Linked DNA regions of Homo sapiens. Changing the gene in region 1 together with any one later gene gives a genetic interaction. Each region holds a gene or a part of one and is shown in the gene's direction. Other genes may lie near its edges. The genes, in order: PTAR1, SGMS1, ARMH3 and TM9SF2.

What was found.
Region 2: changes in PTAR1 (region 1) and SGMS1 are lethal when combined (synthetic lethality), as found in Homo sapiens cells (one study listed by BioGRID).
Region 3: changes in PTAR1 (region 1) and ARMH3 are lethal when combined (synthetic lethality), as found in Homo sapiens cells (one study listed by BioGRID).
Region 4: changes in PTAR1 (region 1) and TM9SF2 are lethal when combined (synthetic lethality), as found in Homo sapiens cells (one study listed by BioGRID).

What each region holds. Positions count from the first base shown.
Region 1 is NC_000009.12:69,721,985-69,729,022, reverse strand, and holds part of PTAR1 (protein prenyltransferase alpha subunit repeat-containing protein 1), read left to right. Parts: intron 1-5,392; coding exon 5,393-5,697; intron 5,698-7,038.
Region 2 is NC_000010.11:50,305,929-50,312,966, reverse strand, and holds part of SGMS1 (phosphatidylcholine:ceramide cholinephosphotransferase 1), read left to right. Parts: intron 1-1,551; coding exon 1,552-1,705; intron 1,706-4,818; coding exon 4,819-4,985; intron 4,986-5,645; coding exon 5,646-5,825; 3' UTR 5,826-7,038. UniProt on the Homo sapiens protein: Major sphingomyelin synthase at the Golgi apparatus.
Region 3 is NC_000010.11:101,990,154-101,997,191, reverse strand, and holds part of ARMH3 (armadillo-like helical domain-containing protein 3), read left to right. Parts: intron 1-1,836; coding exon 1,837-1,895; intron 1,896-3,588; coding exon 3,589-3,654; intron 3,655-5,153; coding exon 5,154-5,223; intron 5,224-6,580; coding exon 6,581-6,641; intron 6,642-7,038. UniProt on the Homo sapiens protein: Involved in GBF1 recruitment, Golgi maintenance and protein secretion.
Region 4 is NC_000013.11:99,560,434-99,564,548, forward strand, and holds the end of TM9SF2 (transmembrane 9 superfamily member 2 precursor), read left to right. Parts: intron 1-2,257; coding exon 2,258-2,325; 3' UTR 2,326-3,615; downstream 3,616-4,115. UniProt on the Homo sapiens protein: In the intracellular compartments, may function as a channel or small molecule transporter.

The sequences.
Region 1 (7,038 bases):
TAATGTATTTATTAGCATTGAATGAGACAGCAAATACTTTAAAGTGTTTGAAACAGTGCTTGGCACATGGTAAATGCTGAACAGATAGTAATACATACACACAACAATGCTATAGATTTTTTTCTTGTATTTTTTATAAAAGCATATATTTGTTTTCTAGTCAGAAAAAGGTTAAAGAATAAAGATTGATTAAAAGTAGTATAGGGTGGAATTATGACACTAATTTTCTATTTTATGTTCTCTCTGATGTCTGCATGCTTAAATAAACATTTAAGTAAATTTTAAAATATTTTTATATTTGAGGGTAGTGTGGCAGGAAAGATTCACAGTCAGGCAGTTTATTACTACTGGCAAATTACAAGTTTCACATAAAAAAAGCACATATAGTCATTTCTCCAAAAAACCTACCCACACCACCAATAAGGACATGAAAAGATATTCACCATCTTTACTATTAGGGAAATGCAAAGCAAAACCACAGGGAGTGAGATACCACTTCACACCAAAATACGGACAATAACAAATGTTGGTTAGGATGTGGAGAAACTGAAACTCTTATTTATGGCTGGTAAGAATGTAAAATGGTACAGCCACTGTGGAAAGCAGTTTGGCATTTCCTCAAATAATTAAACATAGAATCACTATATATTAATAAAACTATAGTTAATATATATCATATTCTTGGAGAAAAACATGCATTACCATATATGACCCTGTAATTCTGCTCCTAGGTATATACCCAAGAGAAGTGAAAACACATTCCATACCAAATCTTGTATGAGAACATTAATAGCCATATTATTTATAATAGCCAAAAAATAATACCTCACCTGAGGAATGGAAAACAAAATGTGGCGTATCCATGCAATAGAACATTGGCCATAAAAAAGGAAGGAAATACTGATACATGCTATAACGTGGATGAACCTTGAAAACATGCTGATTGAAAGCAGTCAGATTCAAGGCCACATATTGTATGATTTCATTTATATAACATGTTCAGAATAGGCAAAGCAGGTTAGTGGGTGCCAGAGGCTGGGGAGGAGGGAATGGGATGTAACTTCTAATAGGAATGGGGTTTTGTGGGGGTGGTGAAAACATTAGAAATTAGATAAGAGCAATGGTTGCACAATTCTGTGAATATATTAAAAACCACTGATTTATTTTTTCACTTCAAAAATGATTCTAAAGTACATTAGAGAGAATAAAGCTTAAAGAATAGCTGAGGAATTGTTGGGAAAAACAATAAAGAACACTCTACCATTAGATACTTACATGTTTATTAATAAGACAGAGTAATTAAAATTGTGATGCTATTTCAAAAATAGACTCAGTAATGGAACAGAATATAAAGTCCAGAAACAAATTCCAATACATAATATGTACATATTTCATTAATGATGAATATGGCATTTCACATAATTAGAGAAAGGATTCCCTGTTCAATTTGTGATGCTGGTAAAATTTATTGACTTTTTAGAAAATAGAAAGTTAGGTGGTTTTTTTTTTTTAATCTTAAATACCAAATTGAACTTTAAATGGAATAAAAACCTATATGAAGAAAAGAGACTCACATTATGCTAAGTGAAATAAGCCAAGCGCAGAAGGATAAATATTGCATGGTGTCACTTGTAGGTGGACTCTAAACAAGTTGAACTCATGGAAATAGTAGAATGGTGATTGCAGGAGTAGGGGTTGTGGTGGGGAACAGGGAGTTGCTGGTTAAAGGGTACAAAGTTTCCGTTAGGATGAGTAAGTTCTGGAGGTCTAATGGTAGAACATGGTAATTACTGTTAATAATGTATACCCAAAGATTTCTAAGAGCGTTATCTTAAATGTTCTTACCACAAAAAATAAAATACTTATGTGAGGTGATAGATAAGTTAATTCACTTGATGGTGGTAATCATTTCACAGTGTATACATAAAAACAATATGTCGTACATCGTATATATATATGTGTGTGTATACGTGTGTGTGTGTGTGTGTGTGTGTGTATATACACAATTTTAATTTGTCATTTATACTTCTTCAATAGACCTGAGGGAGAAAAGAAAAAAAAGAATTTTACTTGACTCCCAATCTTTAAAAAAAAAAAAAGAATTTAAAAAATCAGTTGCAGTAATATATCGAAAATAATATTTATAACACATATGACAAATAGAGACTTAATATCTTTAATATGTAAAGACCTCTTACAAACTCGTAAGAAAAATAATGACTATCACAAATAGTAAATTAGATAATTCATAAAAGTAGAGAATTAGGCAAAATAGGCAGTTCATAAATGAAGAAGCAAAGGAAAAGTAATCACACAAGAAAAGATATTTAGGCTTAATGATAATTAAGGAAATGTAAATTAAAATGAAATGTGATTCTTATTAGTGAAGATTAAAGTATTGATGATGAATTTAGGAAATAAGCATTAACATGTACTTCCAATAGGAGTATAAATTATACAGTCTTTCTGCAGGACACTTTATATATCAAGAACTTTATAAAGTTTTTTTCTTTGTTCCAGCAAGTATATTTCTACAAATTTCTCCTAAATAATTAGATATGTACATAGATTTATTTATGAGTGTTACTTATACAAGAGTAGAAACAAACACAGGAATGGTTAAATTCTGTTAATCTTGAGGGTGAAATATTTTACGAGTTAAAAATTATAGAATAATATTTAATGCCATAGGAATGTATTTATAATTGAAGTAGAATAAAATTGGTACAAAAGAATATCCCAGATTTTTCTTAAAAATAAACTCTGTGCATGTGCATACATAGAAAAAAACCTGAAAGATTTGTTTTCTGCCAGAATGTTACAAGTAGTGATCTCTGGCCAACAAAATAATGGATGATTTTTGTTTGCTTTTTTATATTTTCCCATATTATTGGAATTTTCTATATTGATCATTTTGTATCACTTTTATAATCAGAAGAAAACCCAAATACTATTTTTAAAAGTTTAAAGGACCTATGGCATATGTATTTTTAGTAGTCTTTCATTTTTAGCACGTTATCCCTCTTTTTCATAGCCCTGCATTTGCAGTTTTCTTGTAGTTTATTTATTCACTTATTCATGTTTTCATATGGAAGTAGGAAAAGAAAGATATTTAACGTATATCATACGAAGGTCATTTATCCCATCAGTACTGTACATTAAAGCCATATCTTCATATAGTATCTTTAGATCACTTAAAAGTTAACTGGATCACTTAAAAGTAATTGCTGTCTTTTTTAAAAAAATCATTGCCTCTATCTTTATATCTTTTTATTCTAACAAGAGAATACCCTGAAATTCCAGTTAAAGTTTCTAATATGCATCTTTATATCTTAGGGAAAAGAATATAGTGGATTTTCTCTTTAAAAGCCTAAGAATTTTTTTAAGAAATTGATTTTGTTGAAAATATATATATATATTTTTTTTCTTTTTTGAGATGGAGTCTTGTTTTGTCGCCCAGGCTGGAGTATAGTGGAGCAATCTCGGCTCACTGCAACCTATACCTCCCAGGTTCGAGTTATTCTCCTGCCTCAGCCTCCCAAGTAGCTGGGACTACAGGCATGCACCACCACGCCCTGCAAATTTTTGTATTTTTAGTAGAGACAGGGTCTCACCATTTTGGCCAGGCTGGTCTCCAACTCCTGACCTCAGGTGATCCGTCCGCCCCAGCCTCCCAAAGTGCTGGGATTACAGGTATGAGCCACCACGCACAGCCAGAACATCTTTTATATGTGTGCTATTTTTGCCTCAAAATTAAATAATAAACTGCAATTTTATACATAGAAATATCCAGTTAGAAATAATCTAAATGTTTTCATATTATATAAGTTCATTTTAAATAAGTGGAGTACTCTTTTCAATCCATGTTAAGAAGCCATGCCAAAATAAAAAAGCTGCTGTATTATAGCCAGAATGTTCTACAGGTTTATTTTTCAAAAATGTAATAAATGTAAGATTGATTTTTATTTCAGGTAGGAGTTTATCTGGTGCTATTTTTCTTCACCTTTTAAAATCAAATAAAGATACTGTTTTCCATTTCTCAGATACTTGCCAGCTATAGCCTCTGGAATAAATTTAGGTGGCTATGAATAAACTCATTGGAACTTAAAGGAGATGTTTAAAACATATCACTGATACAACTTGACTATCTTGGCTGGAAGTAATCTTACTATTTGCCTTATTTATTAAATTGTTCATTCATTTCATAAAATATTTATGTATCCACTTTGATGTCAGTAGGTATAGGGGGATTGAAGTATCAGATAGGAATGAATAAATATCTTAAAGCCCTCACTCACTGAGTTTAATGAGAATGAAGAGATGCACTGAAATTCTTTAATAAATGTGATGGAATACATAAGTACTATGGGGGTTCAGCAAAAGGAAAGATTCCCGCGGAAGAAAAATGGTGTAAGAAATGGAAAAAAGATCATGGTACAGGAGAAGGCATTTGCCTGGGACCTTTGACAAACAGGTAAAGGTGTCATTCAGCATTATGCTGTCTGTATTGTTAACTGTTCACAAATGTATGTCTTTTTTCCTTAGCTGGTCTGAAAATCCTCTGACGGAACGTGGTAGGCACTTGATATACCTTTCACTGATTTATGTTTGCGACCTGTCCAAGACACTCTCAAATAAATTATTTTTGCATAGGTGCTGCTTTTTAAAAAATCATTTCATTTGAAATTCTTTAGTTTGCAAGATATTGGTATCACAAAGATTTAAACAATTTGCTGCTGAATTTTCAGTTATTTTAAAACCCATTTATTATTACTGTTAAGTAAGTTTGAGACAGTTAAAGTCACGAGCTCTTGAAAAAATCTTATTATTAGTGCATCATGTTTTTCTACTAATCCCTTATAATTAAGTAGTGAGCAAGACAGACACGGTCTCTGCCCTCATGACATTTATATTGAAGAACAAATAATTTCACTGAGCCTATTGTAGAGATAATAAGTTACATATTATACACATTTATTAAATGTAAAATAAAGTTTATATCAAAGTAATCTGAGTTTATATTTTTGCTTTTACGTCAGCATTACTTGTAAATGAATACCCTAATGCTCATCATTATTTTAGAATTTTATTTTCCTTCTCTGTGTGTACCAATCAGAATGTGAGTAGTCAAGGTCTAGGGAAAGGATGACAAATGAGTCCTTAAATTCTTTAGTCTTAAAAAAAAATCTATCACTTTTATATGGGAAAGAGAAAATTCGCATGTATTAAGCTTCCACTAAGTGAGAGCACTGTGCTAGACATTGTGTACAAAATATTGGTAAGAATGGTCTTGTCAAAAAAGGAACAAATCAAAGAGAAATCAGAGGCAATAATGGAGAAAGAAGAACCTTTGGGAACTCTTCTTCTTACTTCCCTTTTTTCTTCTTAAAAGATTCTTCTTGATGAACTATCTTCTACTAAACATTGGGCATCTATGCACGTTTCAGACCACAGTGGATTTCACTACCGCCAGTTTTTGCTTAAGTCTTTGATTAGCCAAACTGTGATAGACAGTTCTGTGATGGAGCAAAATCCTTTGAGAAGTGAGCCAGCCCTAGTTCCTCCAAAAGATGAAGAAGCAGCAGTTTCAACAGAAGAACCAAGGATTAATCTTCCCCATCTTCTAGAAGAAGAAGTTGAATTCAGCACTGATCTTATTGATTCCTACCCAGGACATGAAACCCTTTGGTGTCATAGGTAAGAAAAGGGAAAATCTATTTCCTACACAAAACTGCATGTCTTCATGAGAGCTGCAGAAAGTGTTAGTTACACCTGATTCCTGCCTGCTTGGGTAAACATGGTCATCTGATTGTGGAGCTTTGCCTGAGTGAATACAAGAGGTTTTGTGTTACCATATCATCGTCATCATCATCATCATCATCATTAATAAGAGATTCCTCATGTAGATCTCTGCCTGCAGCTTAGGATGGTGATATTCAACCTTGACTGTGCAACAGAATAACCTGTGTTAGTTCCAAAATAAAACAGAATCAGAAGTTTTTTTGACTCCTTCCTTGGAGATACTAATATTTAGCATATCTAGGATGGATTGCTGCCATCTCTCTTTTTTTTTTTTTTTTTTTGAGATAGAGTTTTGCTCTTCTTGCCCAGGCTGGAGTGCAATAGCGCGATCTCGGCTCACTGCAATCTCGGCCTCCAAGGTTCAAGCAATTCTCCTGCCTCAGCCTTCCAAGTAGGTGGGATTATAGGCACCCACCACCACACCGGGCTAATTTTTGTGTTTTTAGTAGAGACGGAATTTCACCATGTTGGCCAGGCTGGTCTCGAACTCCTGACCTCAGGTGATCTGCCTGCCTTGGCCTCCCAAAGTGCTGGGATTACAGGTGTGAGCCACCATGCCTGGCCCTTTTTTTTTTTTCCCCCCTAGAAAAAGCTCAACACATTGATGCACAGTCAGGATTGAGATTTGATTAGACCCCAAGAATAAGGTATGCTTTATCATTTTTCCAACCCTGATGGTCTGCAAATTAACTTACCTGAAGTATAATCTCTTGACACTTTTTGTTTAAAGTGTAAGAGAATTTCTCTTTGAGAGAGGGGAAAGTCTGGTAGCAAAGAGTGAAAAAGGGTTAGCAACCTATCAACTTCAGTTGTGAGTACATTTGACAGTATGTTGGACTGAAGTCACATATGTGACCCCTTCCCAGCTTCATTTCTTTTGGATCTTCCTTTATTTGGAGGCATCTTCATCTTCATAAATACAGATTCTACTTTAGGCCATAGCATTGTATTTGTAAATGAAAGACTTGCCTGTGCTAGGCAGGAAGGAGGTAGGCATTGTTTAAAATTGCCTATTTCTAAAGTTATTGAGATTTTCTTTCTTTCTCCAGTCTAGTCTGTCTTGCAGGTTATTTGAGGAGACCTGGTCAGCTGCTTTTCCTTACTAAATATATTCAGAACATAAAAGATTATCTCCCCTCTTTGGCACCTTCATTAGTAGAGAACATTCTTTTTCTCTTAAAACCAAGACACTTATTTCATGTTTTCAAGAGGGAAGATAGACCTTTTAAGCTACTG
Region 2 (7,038 bases), on another chromosome or scaffold:
TCAATACAGCCAGAGGCATTGGGTATTCTGTTGGGCTCATCTCCATGATGACATCCCTCCAGAGCATTCTGGCTGTTTGCTTTCCAGCCCAAACTTGTGAGCTACTGTGAAGTCCTTCATCTCTCCTTTTTTGGCATCGTAGTGAGTCCCATTTCTTCTTTTCTCCATGTTTACTCCCTTGTTTTGGAGACTGTACCCTCTGTGATTCCTGGAAAAGAGTATATAAGCGGTAAATATTTTTAAATCGTGTATATATGAAAAAGGCTTTAATTTATCCTTAGTTTATCCTTCAGTTTATGCTTAGTAGTAATATGGCTGGGTACAGAATTCTAAGTGGGAAATCATTTTCCCACAAAATCTAAAGGCATTTTCTCAAAGCTTTCTGTTTTTCAGTGTGGCTTTTGAAAAGTCTTATTCTAATGATCCTTCATGTAAAGCTTGTTTTTAATCTCTGGAGGCTTTAGAGTCTCTTCTTAGTCCCCAGATTCTAAAATCCCATGATGCTGAGTCTTGATATGTAGATCTGTTTTCTTCCATTATGTTGAGCATTCAGTGATCTCTTTGGATTTGGAAATTTATATCCTCTGTGTGGTGTGCTCCATCTGCCATTCTTTTTTTTTTTTTTTTTTAATTTCTCACACTTCACTGATGTATCATCCTTCCATCCTTAATCAGAAGTCTTGATAATTTTTTAAAAGGAAATTATAATAAAACATGTTGCCCAAAGCTAGATTCTTATAAGTTAAATATTGAAATCATGGTAATTAAATTGGACAACCAGAATTTAATTAAATTGGATCATGGTAATTAAATTAGACAACCAGAATTTAAAAGAGTACTAACAAGCATAAAATATAGACAGTTACACATTTTACTTGACCGAGCAAATAAAGGTTGTAATGAATGAGTTGTTCAAGCTATTTATTACTCCGGTGTCCAGCCCAGACTTGTATCATAGACAGGTAAATTAATTTATAATCTGGAAAATTATTCAATGTTACCTACATAATTTGAGAAGATTAAAGGCACATCCCTTGTTTCAACATGATCCCTGAACATCCACATACCAAAAATATTCATATATTTGACTACCCAAACCTTCAGCTGCTTTAGCCAAGTGTAGTAGGACAGTTGTCTTCTAGGCCAACCATGATAAAAATACATCTTTAAATTTTTCCTAGACTACAGATTTAAATTTTATTTTTCCCAAATGATAGTTATACTAAAGCAATTATTCAGTCAGTCAGATAGAAGTACTGTTTCTCTGTCATTGTAATTTTTGAAAAACTGGGGAAACATCTACTGACACGTGCTTTAAAAAGTGCTAACTGTGAAAAGTCCTGAAGCCACGTGATTCATTTGTAGGACCATCCCACCCCCCCGCCCCAAGGGCTACTCTTGGAATGGTAAACACTGAGTGGGCAAACTTCCTGGTGGGGATTTTATGTTTCTTAATATAAGCTTAATTCTGGATATGAATAGTAATCTTCGCACATTTTCATGTGGGCTCGTAATGAATCTTCTTTTTCTTCTTTTCTTTTTTTCTGCCAGCTTTTCGGAGACTGGGAAGCCCAACTGCGAAGAATAATGAAGCTCATTGCTGGAGGTGGCTTGTCTATCACTGGCTCTCACAACATGTGTGGGGACTATCTGTACAGCGGCCACACGGTCATGCTAACACTTACCTACTTATTTATCAAAGAGTGTAAGTCTAAAAGACTTCCATTGTAATTTCCTCACCTGCCATTTCTCATGAACTCTGGTCCTCTGGTAAAGCTCATTTTCTGGAAAATCTGCTGAAGCAAGACTGGAGGCTTCAGGAGGCTTGCAGCTTCATCTCATCGCCATGCAACTGGCACCCAGGGAAATATGTGGAAGGACAGAACTGGTCTTCCTGAGGACGAGGTGTCCTGGAGTGTCATCTGTAGTACTGGGGTGGAGGCAGTTCCAAGCACAGCCTGCAGGGTGTGTTATGAGCCAGTTATACAGCTGCTGTAAGGAGCCAGATGGAAATCTCAAAGGGACACAGAAATCCAGTATCAAGCCTGATTGGGTGATGGTAGATTATGTGTTGATGCAGCAACTATTTTTTCAGCACTTGGCACTATGCTACATGCCTGAGGGTACAGTGATGGGTCAGACTCATCCCTGTCCTCAACAAGGCCATGGGCTCAGGGCTGAGGCAGATACTAAATGGGAAATTTCCCTTAAGAAACGTACTTAAAATATTTTATTGTGAAATCACAAAATAATATTATAAATACCGCATACATGGCTCAGATTTAATATATATTAGCATTTTGTCATATTTAATTCAGATAACCCTTTTAGAAAGGAAATGAAATGTTAATATATGATTAAAACCTTTTCATTCCTTTCCTATATCATTTCCATCCATTTTTTTGGACTTGTGTATTATTGTTTTGTGGTTTTTTAAATTTATATACATAAATGGCATACTGCCATTTATATTCTTCTGCCACTATTTACCCTCAAATTATGTTTTTGAGATATGAGATTTTGGTCCATTCACTTTAATTGCTATTAATATTACAGTGCTAGAAATGAACTACACATATTTATTCATTTCTCTACTTATGGAAAATTTTATTATGCTCAATATCACATTGTTAGAAACAGTCTGATAAGCATTATACAGGGGGGTTTCCATGAAGAGCAATGAGTAGAACCAGGCTGCTGTGGTATCACAGAGGAGGGAGATGCTTTGCCTTCTGGAGGTGTCTTGGGAGCATGTGGTACTCTCTGGAAGTTTAAGTGGGTGGAATTCAGAGTAGGGGTAATAATAAGAATGGACAGGTAAGTGGGAACCAGATCACAGGGGGTGCTTAAGCCACAAGAAGAGGGTCTGAACTCTCAGCTGATGTAGATCGGGTGCCCATTGAGGGGTTGTAACCAGTGGGGCAGTGTCATTTGTCTTTGAAGAGAGAAAAATCACTCTTGCAGCAGCTTGCAGGATGGACTGGATGGGGGACCAAACTGGAGACCGGGAGAAAAGTTAGGAGATTGCTGCAGTAACAAAGGAAACTAGCCTGATGGCATCAGGGATGGAGAGAAGTGACAGACACTTTAAGACATTAATAAAGAGAGTCAGCAGATAACAGGATGGATTATGGGGTAGAGAAAACAGGTAGTGGACTGGGTCGAAACCTAGTTTTGTTCTTGAAAAACTAAGATAAGGAAATACAGGAAGGGAAGAGAGATGCACTTCAGGGCACTGAGATAGAAAAGGGAGAATAGATGTTCCAGTGCTTATACTTAGTACGTGAGCAGATATAGTGAGTTCTAGCAAGATCTGTTCAGAATTGTCAGGGCATAATCTAGCCTTTGGACTGGAATGTAACTGGATGTGGACAGTAGGAATCACATAGGCCAGATGTCAGCACCCCTGGGGGAGGGATTCCTGGCTCCTGCTGCCTGATACCTGAAATTCTTTAACGGGGTCAAGGCTTATCCATCTTGACAATAAGGCAATGTGTCATATTGAGAGGCAGAGGCGTTGGTACTATCACTTACTAGCTCTATGACCCTGGGAAGAAACTTTAACCTAAGTCTTAGTTTCCTCATGTTTAGAATGAGATATTCACATCTGCTTCATCGGGTGGGAAAAAGTTTATGAACATTAAAATTAGATGGCATATATGGATACTAATAGAGTCACACAGAGACTGAATGGTAGCTGTTTCTTGTTTTTGTATTGTCAAGGTATCAAATACAAATATTACTAGAATATTCCTACCCTAACTGCTCCATTTAAAATTGCAAACTGCCCTTCACTCCCTATACTTCTGATCCCCCTTATCCAGCTCAACTTTATTATTTTTCCACAGCCTTTAACACCTAACATAATGTGTAAATTATTTATTATAAGTATTGTCTCTTATCTCTCTTCCCCACTAGGAAGGGATCTTCCCACAAAGGCAGCCTCCTTGCCTTTTTTATTCATTGATCCAGGTATCTAGAGCATTGCCTGTCCCTGGCATGTAAGAGGCTCAATGAATATTGGTTGAATGAATGACTGGTTCTTGGACCCATTGAGAATCCAATAAAAGTCTGAACCTGTCATGCTGGTGTAGAGAGTATAGATCATATTCAAACAACATTTTGCCTAACACTGCAGAGCCTCTGAATCCCACAATTGAGAATCCAAGGTAGAAAGGCCTGCACTAATAGAAATTTTGATGTTTTTCTCAGGTAATTTCCCAAATGGGGATACAGACAAGTATTTATCTGACACCATTCGACCTTTGAGAAGGCACTTGAACTAGAATTCCCAGGCGTCTGGATGCTTTTCTGCTTGTATTTGAGAAATGAAAATCTCAAAGACTTTCAGATTAGTGTATGGTTGCAGAACTTGGAAAGCAGTACAGTTAAATCAGTTATGACTGCTTAGTCCTTGTATTAGGCTCTGTGGGCCAAAAGGTATTGATTTTTGTGTAGAGCATCAACCCCAAATTAGCTAGAGGTAAATTTAAATGTCAATGGACAGTTTTTAAAAACGAAACATGATGCATTAACCTGTCCTTATTTGATTAGCCTCATCTTTTAAACTCTATTTATGATTGTATGAATCAAGTAAGAACCAAATATGAATTACTATCACTAGTATAATCACATCATAAAAAGCTGTTTCTGTTCTAACCTTGGTTACAGATAAATGACAGCCCTTAGATTCACTAGATCTGTTTTCAGAAGGGAAGACTCAAGGTAATTGGATTCAGAAGCATTAGTAGAGGCATAGTTGGGTGCCCTTAATGTCATTTGAATAATGGGACTATTGCAAATCTCTCCCCCTTTCAGATTCCCCTCGGCGACTCTGGTGGTATCACTGGATTTGCTGGCTTCTCAGCGTAGTTGGAATCTTCTGTATTCTCTTAGCGCATGACCACTACACTGTGGACGTGGTGGTGGCATATTACATCACCACGAGACTCTTCTGGTGGTATCACACTATGGCCAATCAGCAAGTGAGTTTCCCCGCTTTTGATTTTAGCTTCTGTTGTTTCTGGCTTGATGTTGCTGGCTTGGACAGGGTGCAAAGAACCTGTGGATGTCTGAAGTTTCTCTTTCTTAAGTAGTAATCAACTAAGATTGTATTGTTTTTTTGTGACATTGATTCTCTTCAGAATTAAGAATAAAAAGTTTATTAATATAATGATGTGAGGAATTACTTCCTTCTAGAATAAGGAACGCACTTTCATTGTCCTTGAAAAATGAAAAATATTTTCTAAGCTTGTGTCCCTCCTTGCTTGATTTGCTTTCCTATCCTCTTCTCCCTACCCGGGGCACATCACAAGCTTAATATTTAACATTTAATTAAGTGTTAACATTTTTAGCATAGAAGAGGAATACCTAAAAAGCTAACTGAGGTGTTTATTTATAAGCAAGAGATGAGTGAGCCATAAGTTCTCCTTGCCCTCCCAGAATTGGCGTTGTTTTTCTACTGGGATGTGGCTCAGTTTGTAGATGAATGTGGAGTGTAGAATGGTGATGAGAGAGAGAAGCTGGGATATGTGGGTGGACACGCAGGGCAGGTATGGAGTCCTTTGGGAATTTTAGCGTGGCAAGTATTTGAACTTAAAGTGAAAGATTGTAAGAAATGTGTTTATGTTTCTTTGTTATCCTAGGTGCTAAAGGAAGCTTCCCAGATGAACCTCCTGGCCAGGGTGTGGTGGTACAGGCCATTTCAGTACTTTGAAAAGAATGTCCAAGGAATTGTACCTCGATCTTACCATTGGCCTTTCCCCTGGCCAGTAGTCCACCTCAGTAGGCAAGTTAAATACAGCCGGCTGGTGAATGACACATAACAGCTGTACAAAGTGGGGAAAAGACAAATTGTCCGAAGTGCTAAGAACTCCATGAGAGAAGATGCCATAAAATAAACACCTCCCTAATCCTATTATCTTTCAATGGTTACCTTGACTTAACCTATTGAGTTACCTGGTCAGCACTGTGATCTTTTTTTCTCTCCAAAGGACCTGCGTTGGACAACAATAAAGAAAAATTTAACCTATCATGCACTGTACACATTTCCTGTTCATAAGTTTGGGATTTACATAACCCGCAACCACCATGTTCCTTTGTATATGATGCAGCAGCATAAATGTAAGCTTTTATATCATAAGTTCTGGTCTTTCCAGTCACATCTGGAAATAAAGCGTATTATTTTCTTGGGAAAACATACTTTTCATATCTCTTGCCCCAAAGATTGGGCTGTAAGCCATTTTCTAGCAAATGTCTCTATGAAGGTTTCTAAGTACCTGAATGGGGTTTGATTCTGAAATCTTTCTACCTGTTGCACCGATATTCAAATAAAAATGATAGACACAGAAAGGTTTGGTAACTTTGGGTTTTGTAAAATCAGCAAAGGCAGTGTTTCAAAAAGTGCAAAAAAAAAGATTCTGTTATAAAGTGATTTTCTAAGTATTTCCTAACTTTATTTTTCAAAATGATGTTATGAACACCAAATTTAAAGATTTTTAACATGTCAGAGAGAAGAGAGTTAAAATTTAAAAATGCATCTTGGGAGAGAAATTTGTCTATGTTTCTAGTGCCTTTCTTGTCTTGATTGTATGGTCAGTAGGCAATCTTAAATGTTTTTATTTAAAATAAAGTATTCCTTGAAAATATAAATATATGTATACACTACTAAATTTTGCATTTATAGCTAAATTGAATCAGAAGACTGCTTATGGTTTTAAAATTGCAATGACTTAAATAATGAGGTTGTTAATTAGAGTCAGAGCCTGTTCACATATTGTGATCAGGTAGCAATGACATGTACCACTTAAATTATTTTATCGTCGATTTGGTAGTTCAATTTTAACTACTCAATGAAAACAGCCATGAATATCTTTTCTTAAAGAGAGTTTTGAAAATGATCACTTACCTAAAACTTGAAAGCTATGAATTAGTTATCCATACTCTCATGACAATTTTGTTGGTGAACAACAAAAAAGAGATCTATTTCTTTAAAAGATATTTGTGCAGAAACTGCATGTAACTCTAAGTTTTACTCCT
Region 3 (7,038 bases), on another chromosome or scaffold:
GTGGATTCAAGCGATTCTCTTGCCTCAGCCTCCTGAGTAGCTGGGATTACAGGTGCATGCCACCACGCCTGGCTGATTTTTGTATCTTTAGTAGAGAAGGGGTTTCACCATGTTGGCCAAGCTTGTCTCCAACTCCTGACCTCAGGTGATCATCCCACCTCAGCCTCCCAAAGTGCTGGGATTAGAGGTGTGAGCCACTGAGCCCAGCCCCTATTCCCTTGGGTTTTCCCCTGCTTTTAAAGCCTTTATTACTTGGGATTTTTCTGACTTTGGTGGTGTCACCTTAAAGAAGCTTCTGCTCAACCTTTATAATAGATACTAGGCAAAAAATTGTAAAAACCATGTATATCTATGCATAGACTTAAAGTTGATTCACCAAAGTCTTAACAGTTATAACATTTGGGTGGTATGATTAAATTTGATTTTCATTGTTTTGTGTGTATATGCTTTTTTAGAGTTTAAAAGACTGTCTATAATGAAATAAGCCTAGTTTTGTATTCATAAACACTTTAATTTTAAAATTAAAAAAAATTTTAAGTGGAGAGATAGCTGCAGGCTTTTCTGTGGGAGTTGCGTATCAGTTTGTGGGAGGATAGTGCCATAGAAACTGGCTAAAGGTGGGTAGAAGAGTTGTGAATCTAGTTTTCTGGAGGCAAGGGCATTACTCTTTGGCTATATCGGGGCTTTGATGAAGCTCCAGGGAGTGTCAGATAGGGATTGTCACCATTACTCTTTTTGCATTGCCTATCTCTGAGGAGATGTGAGTATATTTGTGGATTGTAATCCCCATTATGCCATCTAATTGTCAGGTTTTAATTGATAGATCCCATTTTTGAGAAAGAAGCAGGTCAATGTCAGGGTAAATAGTAATAGCTAACTTCTACAGCACTCTAATCCATTAAGAGGTCTTCTCTCTAGATTGGACTTCATTCTGGGTCCTGTTGAAGCTAATTTGAAAATCATGAGCCATTTGTCTGTTTTGGCTATGCTGGCATGATCCTCTTCTTACTTCCTTTTCACTCCTTCACCCACAGAGTTTCTGGAAAGTAACATAAGCTTGATGGGTTCTCGTACTTGGCAGTAATGGATTAGCTCTTTTTTGTCCTTTTGTGTGTGGGCTTAGAGCCCTGCTACTGAGGTTGTCTTCTTCTTTTTTAATAACTAGAATGTGAGTTGTGAGAGACCAGGGACCTTTGTCTGTTTTATTCAGTGCTATATCTCTAGTGCCTTGCACAGTGCCTGCCACATAGTAGTGCTAAGTAAATATTTGTTGAATGAGTAACTTTGACAGGAAGAAAAATGATCAAGAGTTCACAGCTTTCTAGGGCATAAGTATACAATTGCAAGGAGAAGCGTGGGCTGGACCCTAGTCTCCAGTTAATTTCTTTTTGATTTCATTGCCAGTTTGCTATGAGCAGTCATGAAATCTTTCTAGATTTTGTGGTAGGTGGTGCTTAGAGCTGGCAGATGAGAGGGTGGGTGGAAAAGGAAATGGACCTGACTATTCAAGTTCTATCAGCAAAGGGCTGATGTGAGAGTACTGGCCACTATTTGAGCCATGACAGTAGGAACCATTGTGAGTTAGATGGCTTTCAGGAAGGTGGTTAGCCATTTAACAGACTACCAGGATATTAAAAAAATAAATCTTCTGGGGGAATTCTTTTGCCTAGGAGGGAAGCAAGAATTACTATAGTAGTACCTTGATTTTCATTTATGGATTTTGTGGGAAGAGAAAGTGTGAATGTTTCCTTTTATGATATACGTCCTTGTTCTGTATTGAAACAGATGATGTAAATCTGGATGATTTACAGAGAAGAGTTTCTTTTTTCTTTACAGATGAACACAGGCTTCACAGTGGCAAACTCTGTCTGATTATCCTTACATGTATTGCAGAGGTAGGTCTCACGAGCCTTCTGCTATTAGGCAGTCTTTTACAAAGTGCTATCTTTCCCTGCCTCCCCTCACCCCATTACTGTCTCATGACATTTAGGGTCCTAAAGTTTAGGAGAGAAAATCTTCCCCCTTTGTATTATCTGTCTTCTCCCACTAGAGTGTAGTCTTCGATGAAGCCATGGATAGACAGGGTCTTGTCTGCTTCCACGCTGTTTAGCACTGTGTTTTTAAACTGTGGAGCAGTTTGTTTGTTTGTTTGTTTTGAGACGGAGTATCGCTCTGTTGCCCAGGCTGGAGTGCAGTGGCATGATCTTGGCTCACTGCAACCTCCACCTCCCAGGTTCAAGCGATCCTCGTGCCTCGGCCCCTCTAGTAGCTGGGATTACAGGCAGTGCCACCTTGCCCGGCTAATTTTTGTAATTTTAGTAGAGATGGGGTTTTGCCATGTTGGCCAGGCTGGTGTCAAACTCCTGACCTCAGGTGATCCACCCACCTCGGCCTCCCAAAGTGCTGGGATTACAGGCGTGAGCCACCATGCTCGGCAGTGGAGCAGTTTAAAAAATAAAAAAGGAGCTCAGGTTTCCTGTGATGGGGTGAAGGGGTGGATAGTAAAGCCAGAGAGGGGAATTGGAAACTCAGTAATTGCAGTTTGCCGAGGAACAAGAGCTGAGGGGAAAAAAGAAGAGATGCTTTGGCTTTTTAAGAAGCCACTTTTGGTTGGACTAATTAGGTTCAAACTCACCATGTATCTTGGTGACACACAGGCATGGCAGAACTTGAGTGAGTTTAGAGCTAAATTTATAGCTTCAACCTCCCCCTTTACTATTCCCCACTCTGCTCTTTTCTCTCTTAAGAAAAATGGTGAAGATATTCCACATGAAGTAGAGATCTCTCTCAGTCTCTCTCTCTTCATGTTCTCTGTGGAAAGATGACCTCCTTTTCACAAGATTAGGGGTGGCTGGTTATGGAAGAGCTGCTTATTAGCAGTGGGCCTGGTATAATTGCTTTTCAAAAATCTTTCTAAGAAAATCTTTAAAGGAGTTGTTTTTCACAAATTGTAACAGTTCCTTGTAATTGGAGTCTGTAGGCTTGTCAGATCTTCAGAAAAGGTATTGGGAAAGGGCCAAGGGATGTTTATTACTAATCCATGGTAAGAGGTTTTTGATTTTCTGTCAGTCTTCAGGAAAGCCCGGAATAGACAGGGTCTTGCCTGCTTCCACGCTGCCTGTGTAGCAGTTTGCTTCTGTTGGGCTGAACCCATTCCCAGCAGAGCACAGATTTTTCTTCTTGCTCCTAAACCCTCATGTGGAGCCTGCACATGAATCCTGCAGCCTCTGTGAAAACCTTAAACTATCACAAACAGAGCCAGCTCCTTGGGCAGATGGGACGGAAGAGGGAATAGGAAAACAGATTACTCTCATTCCTCTCAGCATCTGCCTTAAGTCCCTGCGTCTTAATTTTTATTGTTTTTGCTTGGAAATTTTTGACCAGTTAGAGATACACTGGGAAATTACACTAAAGAAAAATCTCATGGCTTAAGTAGGGTTTGACATAAGGCTCTAGGCTCATCCTATTAGCTGTCCAGCTGATCCTTGAAAGTAGTTCTCAAAGTCCAAGGATTTGTACGAAGTGTGATAGATTACAGTTTCTTAAATATAGCTCTCGCTTCTTACTTTTTCTCTATATTTTTATTAGGATCAATATGCCAATGCATTTTTGCATGATGACAACATGAATTTTCGAGTAAACTTACATAGAATGGTAGGTGTTTCTTTTGCTTCTTGTTTTTTCTTAGAGGAAATTTTTTGTATGTCGGCAGGGTTGGGATGAAATTGATCTTACTAGAACAAATGTGGGTGGAAAGTTGTGCCAAAGGGCTTTGCATGACGGCTGTTCAACAGACCCATGCTTGTTGTTGGGATTTTTGTGTGTCATGGAGCTGTTTCTTAATCAAGAGTTTTGGAAGATTCACAAGCGTGGCAATGATACTGGATTTCTTTTTTTTTTTTTTTCTTTTTTTGAGGGAGAGTCTCTCTCTCTCTCTCTCCCCCCCAGGCTGGAGTGCAATGGTGTGATCTCTGCTCACTGCAACCTCTGCCTCTTGGGCTCAAGCAGTTCTTCTGCCTCAGCCTCCTGAGTAGCTGGGATTACAGGTGGCTGCCACCACGCTCGGCTAATTTTTGTATTTTCGTTACAGATGGGGTTTCACCACGTTGGCCAGGCTGGTCTCCAGCTCCTGACCTCAGATGATCTGCCCGCCTTGGCCTGCCAAAGTGCTGAGATTACAGGTGTGAGCCACCGCGCCTGGCCTGATACTGGATTTCAATAATATAGGTTTCAGCAAGGAAATGGTTCTAAGCCTTTTGTTTTCAAAATGTAGTATAATTTTTGAGTGGCTAAGACTAGCTGCTGCTCAGATTTGTTCATCTGAGAAGTGGGCAAATAGAATATGGAGGATCAGGGAATTTCTTAAAGCTTGGAGGTATGTTAAAAAATATCACATTGAGGGCCGGGCTTGGTGGCTCATACCTGTAATCCCAACACTTTGGGAGGCCAAGGCGGGATCACAAGGTCAGGAGATTGAGACCACCCTGGCTAACAGGATGAAACCCCGTTTCTACTAAAAGTACAAAAAATTAGCCGGGTGTGGTGGCAGGCACCTGTAGTCCCAGCTACTCAAGAGGCTGAGTCAGGAGAATGGCGCGAATCCAGGAGACAGAGCTTGCAGTGAGCCGAGATCGTGCCACTTCACTCCAGCCTGGGCAACAGAGCGAGACTCCGTCTCAAAAAAAAAAAAAAAATTACATTGAGGTTTAGATGTAAAACTTTCTTTATTTTTTTGCAACTACTACTGTTGCTGCTTCTATAGGTGGCACCATCACTTCCTCTTTTTTTTATTATTATTATTTATCGTCAAAGAAAAACACCAGTGTACCTCTTTTGTCGTTAGTAATGCCACTTATATAACTAAAAGCAAAGTAAAACCAACAGTTTTCCCATTGTAGTATTCTCTAGTGCCCTTTGAGGTTGTGAATTGTAATTTTGTAACAGGCGTGCATTGATAACTGAAGCATTCACAAGTCCTCCCTTCCCCGCCTCATCCCATGCTACCTCATTCCTCTCCCACCATGTGAAAAAGAGAAAGAAAAGGAAGTATCCCTGTAATAGTGATTTTATTTGCACAAGGAACATGATGATGGGCCATTGGATGTCAGTGCCGGTGTCTACTAATTTCCTTTCTTCATTTTTTTGGTGTGAAGCCTATGAGACACAGGAAGAAGGCAGCAGACAAGAATCTTCCCTGCCGTCCTTTAGTATGTGCAGTACTGGGTGAGTGAGTATCATCAACATTGACATTGTTCTGTGACAGCGATAGGCTTTCATGATGAAGATGAAGAGTAGAACCTGTTTGATGTGCTTCTTCCGCAAATAAATTATTAGTTGTGTTTTTTCCCTGGCCTAAGAATCATGTTTATTGTTGTGTTTGGTAAAGCAACCCCAGTTATAGAGTGGTCAATAAAAGGGTCCTGTTGTTCAAAGAAAAAAGTCATTCCAGTGAGACAAATGGCTGTGTCTAAACTTGATACATGATTTACAAGATACATGATCAAGATTTCAGGCTGGGCGCAGTGGCTCACACCTGTAATCACAGCACTTTGGGAGGCTGAGGTGGGCGGATCACTTGAGGTCAGGAGTTTGAGATCAGCTTGGCCAACATGGTGAAAACCTGTCTGTACTGAAAATACAAAAATTAGCTGGTCGTGTTGGCGTGCGCCTGTAATCCCAGCTACTCAGGAGGCCGAGGCAGGAGAATCGCTTGAACCCAGGAGGCAGAGGTTGCAGTGAGCCAAGATCACGGCATTGCACTCCAGCTGGGGCGAGACTGCATCTCAAAAAAAAAAAAGATTTCAAATTCTTCCCATCCTTTCTTGGTTTGAATTGATGTGCTGGCTGGCCAGGAGGCTTGAAGTTCATGGTTTACATATACAAAACTTCCCCTGAGTATATTAAACTGAGATGAGGCTGACTGAGTTGACAGGTAGGGGGCTGTATCTTGGGTAATTTTGTCTGTCCAGAATTCTGCATTTTCCTCAGGGAATTAGCTGAATTCTTAATCCCATTTCACTTGGATATTCAGCCCCAGTTTCTAAATCTACTTAATTTTAGAAACAGTAATTAAGGCTGTATAATAAGCCTCTCTTGACCCAAAGCCCCACAGCCCATTTCAGTCAATATCTGTCTAACTGAGCATGATAGTAAGATGAGATTGACTGACATAGCTTTAGAGCTGAGTCTCTGGTTACACAAATGTGATCCATAATTTCTTCTCAGAGCTTGCTTCATTGTCTAGTCTCAGAATATGATTTCCCTTTGGCAGTCTGCATTAATGCCATGGGATGAAATATCTATACAATGAAATTTTCCATTTATCTGAATTTATTGGCAGGTCAGGGTATCCTTCTGGAGGTCAGCAAGTGAAATAATTTCTTATTACTTTACAAGTGGCAGGTGGTGAACAGTGTTACACAAAATGCGTTATATAAAATAAGTGTATATGAATAAAGATGTGGTTAGTGGATGCCGTTCAGTGTGAGTGCAAGGTGTACTCAGAAGCTTTTTTTCCAACTCAAAGACAAGAAATGAATTCCATTGTAATTGATCCAGTTTTTCTCTATTCCCCTTTCAGACCTGATGGTAGAGTTTATTGTAACACACATGATGAAGGAGTTTCCTATGGATCTCTATATGTAAGTACAAATATGTACACATTTAATGTGTACAAATCTATTTTAAAGAACTGAATGTTAGAAAATTCATGGTCTGTGTAGGCCGGGCGCCATGGCTCACGCCTGTAATACCAGCACCTTGGGAGGCCGAGGCGGGCGGATCACAAGGTCAGGAGATCGAGACCACGGTGAAACCCCGTCTCTACAAAAAATACAAAAAATTATCTGGGCGCAGTGGTGGGCGCCTGTAGTCTCAGCTACTTGGGAGGCTGAGGCAGGAGTATGGCGTGAACCCAGGAGGCGGAGCTTGCAGTCAGCTGAGATTGTGCCACTGCACTCCAGCCTGGGCGACAGAGCGAAGACTCTGTCTGGGAAAAAAAAAAAAAAAAAAAGAAAGTTCATGGTCTGTGTATACTTT
Region 4 (4,115 bases), on another chromosome or scaffold:
GTGCTACGTGATAAATTTAGGTCCAGAGCTGTAAATTTTAATAAATCATCTATAAAACAGCAGTAGCCAGTGAAACAAGGAATGACTGTTTTTGTGCCCTGTGTGTCCATAAATGCATATACAGAATAATTTATTCCTAGCCTACACACAAAAAATAACGATCATTGTGAATATCTGTTGTTTTTCCAGACATATGATACAGAAAATGATAGCTTAACCATCACCTAAATTTTATTTATTTTTATTTATTTTATTTTTATTTTTTTGAGACGGAGTCTCACTCTTTTGCCCAGGCTGGAGTGCAGTGGCGCGATCTCAGCTCACTGCAAACTCTGCCTCCCAGGTTCACGCCATTCTCCTGCCTCAGCCTCCCGAGTAGCTGGGACTACAGGCGCCCGCCACTGCGCCCGGCTAATTTTTTTTATTTTTAGTAGAGATGGGGTTTCACCATGTTAGCCAGGATGGTCTCGAACCCCTGACCTCAGACGATCTGCCCGCCTTGGCCTCCCGAAGTGCTCGGATTGGGCGTGAGCCACTGCGCCCAGCTGATTTTGTTTTTTAAAGTGTTATATTTTCATTCATTCAGAGTTGAATTTTGTAATCTGAATTATGGAGTCATATCAAATGGAACCAACCAGTTAAACCAGTAACTTATAGTGTATTTCACTTTCTTCAATTGTATTTTTCCTTTAGTGAACAGGTGGAAGCATTCTGGATAAGGGAGTAGTGAGCCCTTTAAATGCCTTACCTTTCTCTAAAATAGGGTATGGTCTGTATTTGCTTCAGTACTCCAGAGCAATGCCATTTTATTGTATTTAAGTCAATCCATTTTACAAAACAGAAGTAATTATTCTGTCACAAAAGGAAAGACGCCACTTTTAGTACGTACATATATTCCATATTAAGAACAAAATTAAGTAACTAAACTTAAGTTTCTTAGAGTTGCCTGGATAGTGATTAAATGTTCTTCTCATCTTAAAATATTGTTTGTCATCTTGAAATTTATGCAAGTAAGTACAAAGTTATATAAATATACTGAGTTTTCATTATTGCTTTTCTGAAATTAACCCCAGCCCTAGCCTGAATAATTATCCTTTTGACTATGCAAAAGGTATATTTGTATGTCCTCCAAAACACACATTGTGCTTTGCATATAGTAGGGCCTCAATACATGTACAATGTAAGGATGGATATAATGATGTTTGTAATTTCCCACGGTAATGTCCCATGTATAGTCTCTTGATTTAGAAAATCTCCTTTAATATTTTCTCAGAGTACTGCATTTAAAACAATGGTGAAAACTATTGGGACTTTAAATGTAAAATTTATACAAGGATTATTTATAGTCCCTTATGTGTGCATGTGCAAGGAGTACTATGCTTGAAGTCAGAAAAAACGCATTTGATTTCTGGCCACAAGTACCATCCATGTGACCATGAGACAGTCACTTAACCCCTTTGAACCTCATTTTTGTCTCATTGAAAGAGTGTCCCCATCTAGCATTCAAATTCTTTGGAATCTAGACTGATACCTGAAAATCAAGCCATACATTGTTTTCATGAATTATCTCATTTACTCTACATAATAGTCTATGGAGGCAATGAGGACAGATAAATTTCTCCCTAGTTAATATGATAAATGGGCTTGGAGATGTCAGTGGACTTGCCCAAGGATGACACACACAGTTTGTGACAGAGCTGCTCTGTTCTCTGCTACCATGCTGTCCCTCATTTTCAGCTAGGATGCATTTTTGTTACTATCTAATCATGTCACTTTTAACATTTTGTAAAAACTTACTGAGTTATTTTATTATAATTCTTTGAAGACTGATAACTTCCAATAACTGTACTTAGAAAATATCCCCATTTAATCATTATTTGAACCTGTTTTAATGTATTCATCTCATACCTTAAAAAATTCTAGTAGCGTTTTCCATTTTGTTGTAAAATATTCTTAAATAGGAAAGGACAGTTGACATCCTTCAGTCTTTTCTATGTAGTAAGGAAAATAATGTGTATTGTAGAAAGCTTAGGTAATCTTATAGTAGAAAAAAGTTCTACCAATTTTTGTAAGAAACTTGATTTGAGGTGGTCGTATATTTTTCAGACGTGCTCATAGATCTGTAGTATATTCCCGGTGGGTAATAGTTTATAGTTTTGCGACTTTTTTAAGGAACCAGTCATTGTAAGTCTGTATTTTTGTGTAAAGTATGAAACTTCCTTTGAAAAGGGGTTTATTTTTATTTTTTCTCTTATAGGAACAATTGGCTTCTTTGCATGCTTTTGGTTTGTTACCAAAATATACAGTGTGGTGAAGGTTGACTGAAGAAGTCCAGTGTGTCCAGTTAAAACAGAAATAAATTAAACTCTTCATCAACAAAGACCTGTTTTTGTGACTGCCTTGAGTTTTATCAGAATTATTGGCCTAGTAATCCTTCAGAAACACCGTAATTCTAAATAAACCTCTTCCCATACACCTTTCCCCCATAAGATGTGTCTTCAACACTATAAAGCATTTGTATTGTGATTTGATTAAGTATATATTTGGTTGTTCTCAATGAAGAGCAAATTTAAATATTATGTGCATTTGTAAATACAGTAGCTATAAAATTTTCCATACTTCTAATGGCAGAATAGAGGAGGCCATATTAAATAATACTGATGAAAGGCAGGACACTGCATTGTAAATAGGATTTTCTAGGCTCGGTAGGCAGAAAGAATTATTTTTCTTTGAAGGAAATAACTTTTTATCATGGTAATTTTGAAGGATGATTCCTATGATGTGTTCACCAGGGGAATGTGGCTTTTAAAGAAAATCTTCTATTGGTTGTAACTGTTCATATCTTCTTACTTTTCTGTGTTGACTTCATTATTCCCATGGTATTGGCCTTTTAAACTATGTGCCTCTGAGTCTTTCAATTTATAAATTTGTTATCTTAATAAATATTATAAAAATGTCTTCATTGCATCATTACCTATTATATATTCAAGGAGGTTCTGTAAATACAGATCTATTTACCAAGGTGTTTTGAAATGATTTATACTATTTTATCAGATTTTACTGGATTTTGTTAATGTAACACTTTCTGAGTTTTGATCTGAATGGAATTTCACTGTGTAAGGCATTGTCTAAAATGTTCACTGTGAGGCAGTAGAGGAGGTTGAAGTCATGCATATCTAGACAGATGAATTATCTGCAAGTACTTAAGGTGGAGCCTTACTACATTGTCATTAAGGAGTTTCTATTTTTGACTTGTTTTTCAAAATACAGTGTTTTAAGTCAGGTTTTATTACCTGGACATTAGCAATCACTAGCAAGTCTTCATCTTTATGATTTCATTGTTTTAATTTAGATTTCACAAACAGTTTTACTTCTAAGAGTTAAGAAATGCACTGTCTTTCACATTCATCTGACTAATTGAAATCCATTTATGTAGAATATAGGAATGGGGGGTGATTCTGAAGTATCGGTCTGCTTGTATCTGTGAGCATATTCATTTGTATTTTAGGGTCTCTCTGCTTGCTGCTTAGGAGAGCAAATCAGATACTGTCATTAAACTTACAACTAAAATTACTAGCTGTCACTTATATGATATTGCTGGGTTCTTACTGAATAATTTTTTTTTTTTTTTGAGACAGAGTTTCCTTCTTGTTGCCCAGGCTGGAGTGCAATGGCGAGATCTCGGCTCACCACAACCTCCGCCTCCCAGGTTCAAGCAATTCTCCTGCCTCAGCCTCCTGAGTAGCTGGGATTACAGGCATGTGCCACCACGCCCGGCTAATTTTGTATTTTTAGTAGAGACGGCATTTCTCCATGTTGGTCACACTGGTTTCAAACTCCTGACCTCAGGTGATCTGCCCGCCTCGGCCTCCCAAAGTGCTGGGATTACAGGTGTGAGCCACTGCGCCCAGCCTTACTGAATAATTTTATGTCACTGTCCTTTTTTAAAAAAACGGACCTGTTGGTTTTGAAGAGTAAAGGAGGAGCTCTGTTCATTTTTAACATGGAATATTTAAGATAGAAGAGTTTCTTTCAGTTTTATGTATCTCTTGTATTTATTTTTTATGGGTAGAGTTGTCCCTTAGTATTTATGGGAGATTGGTTCCAGAACCCTT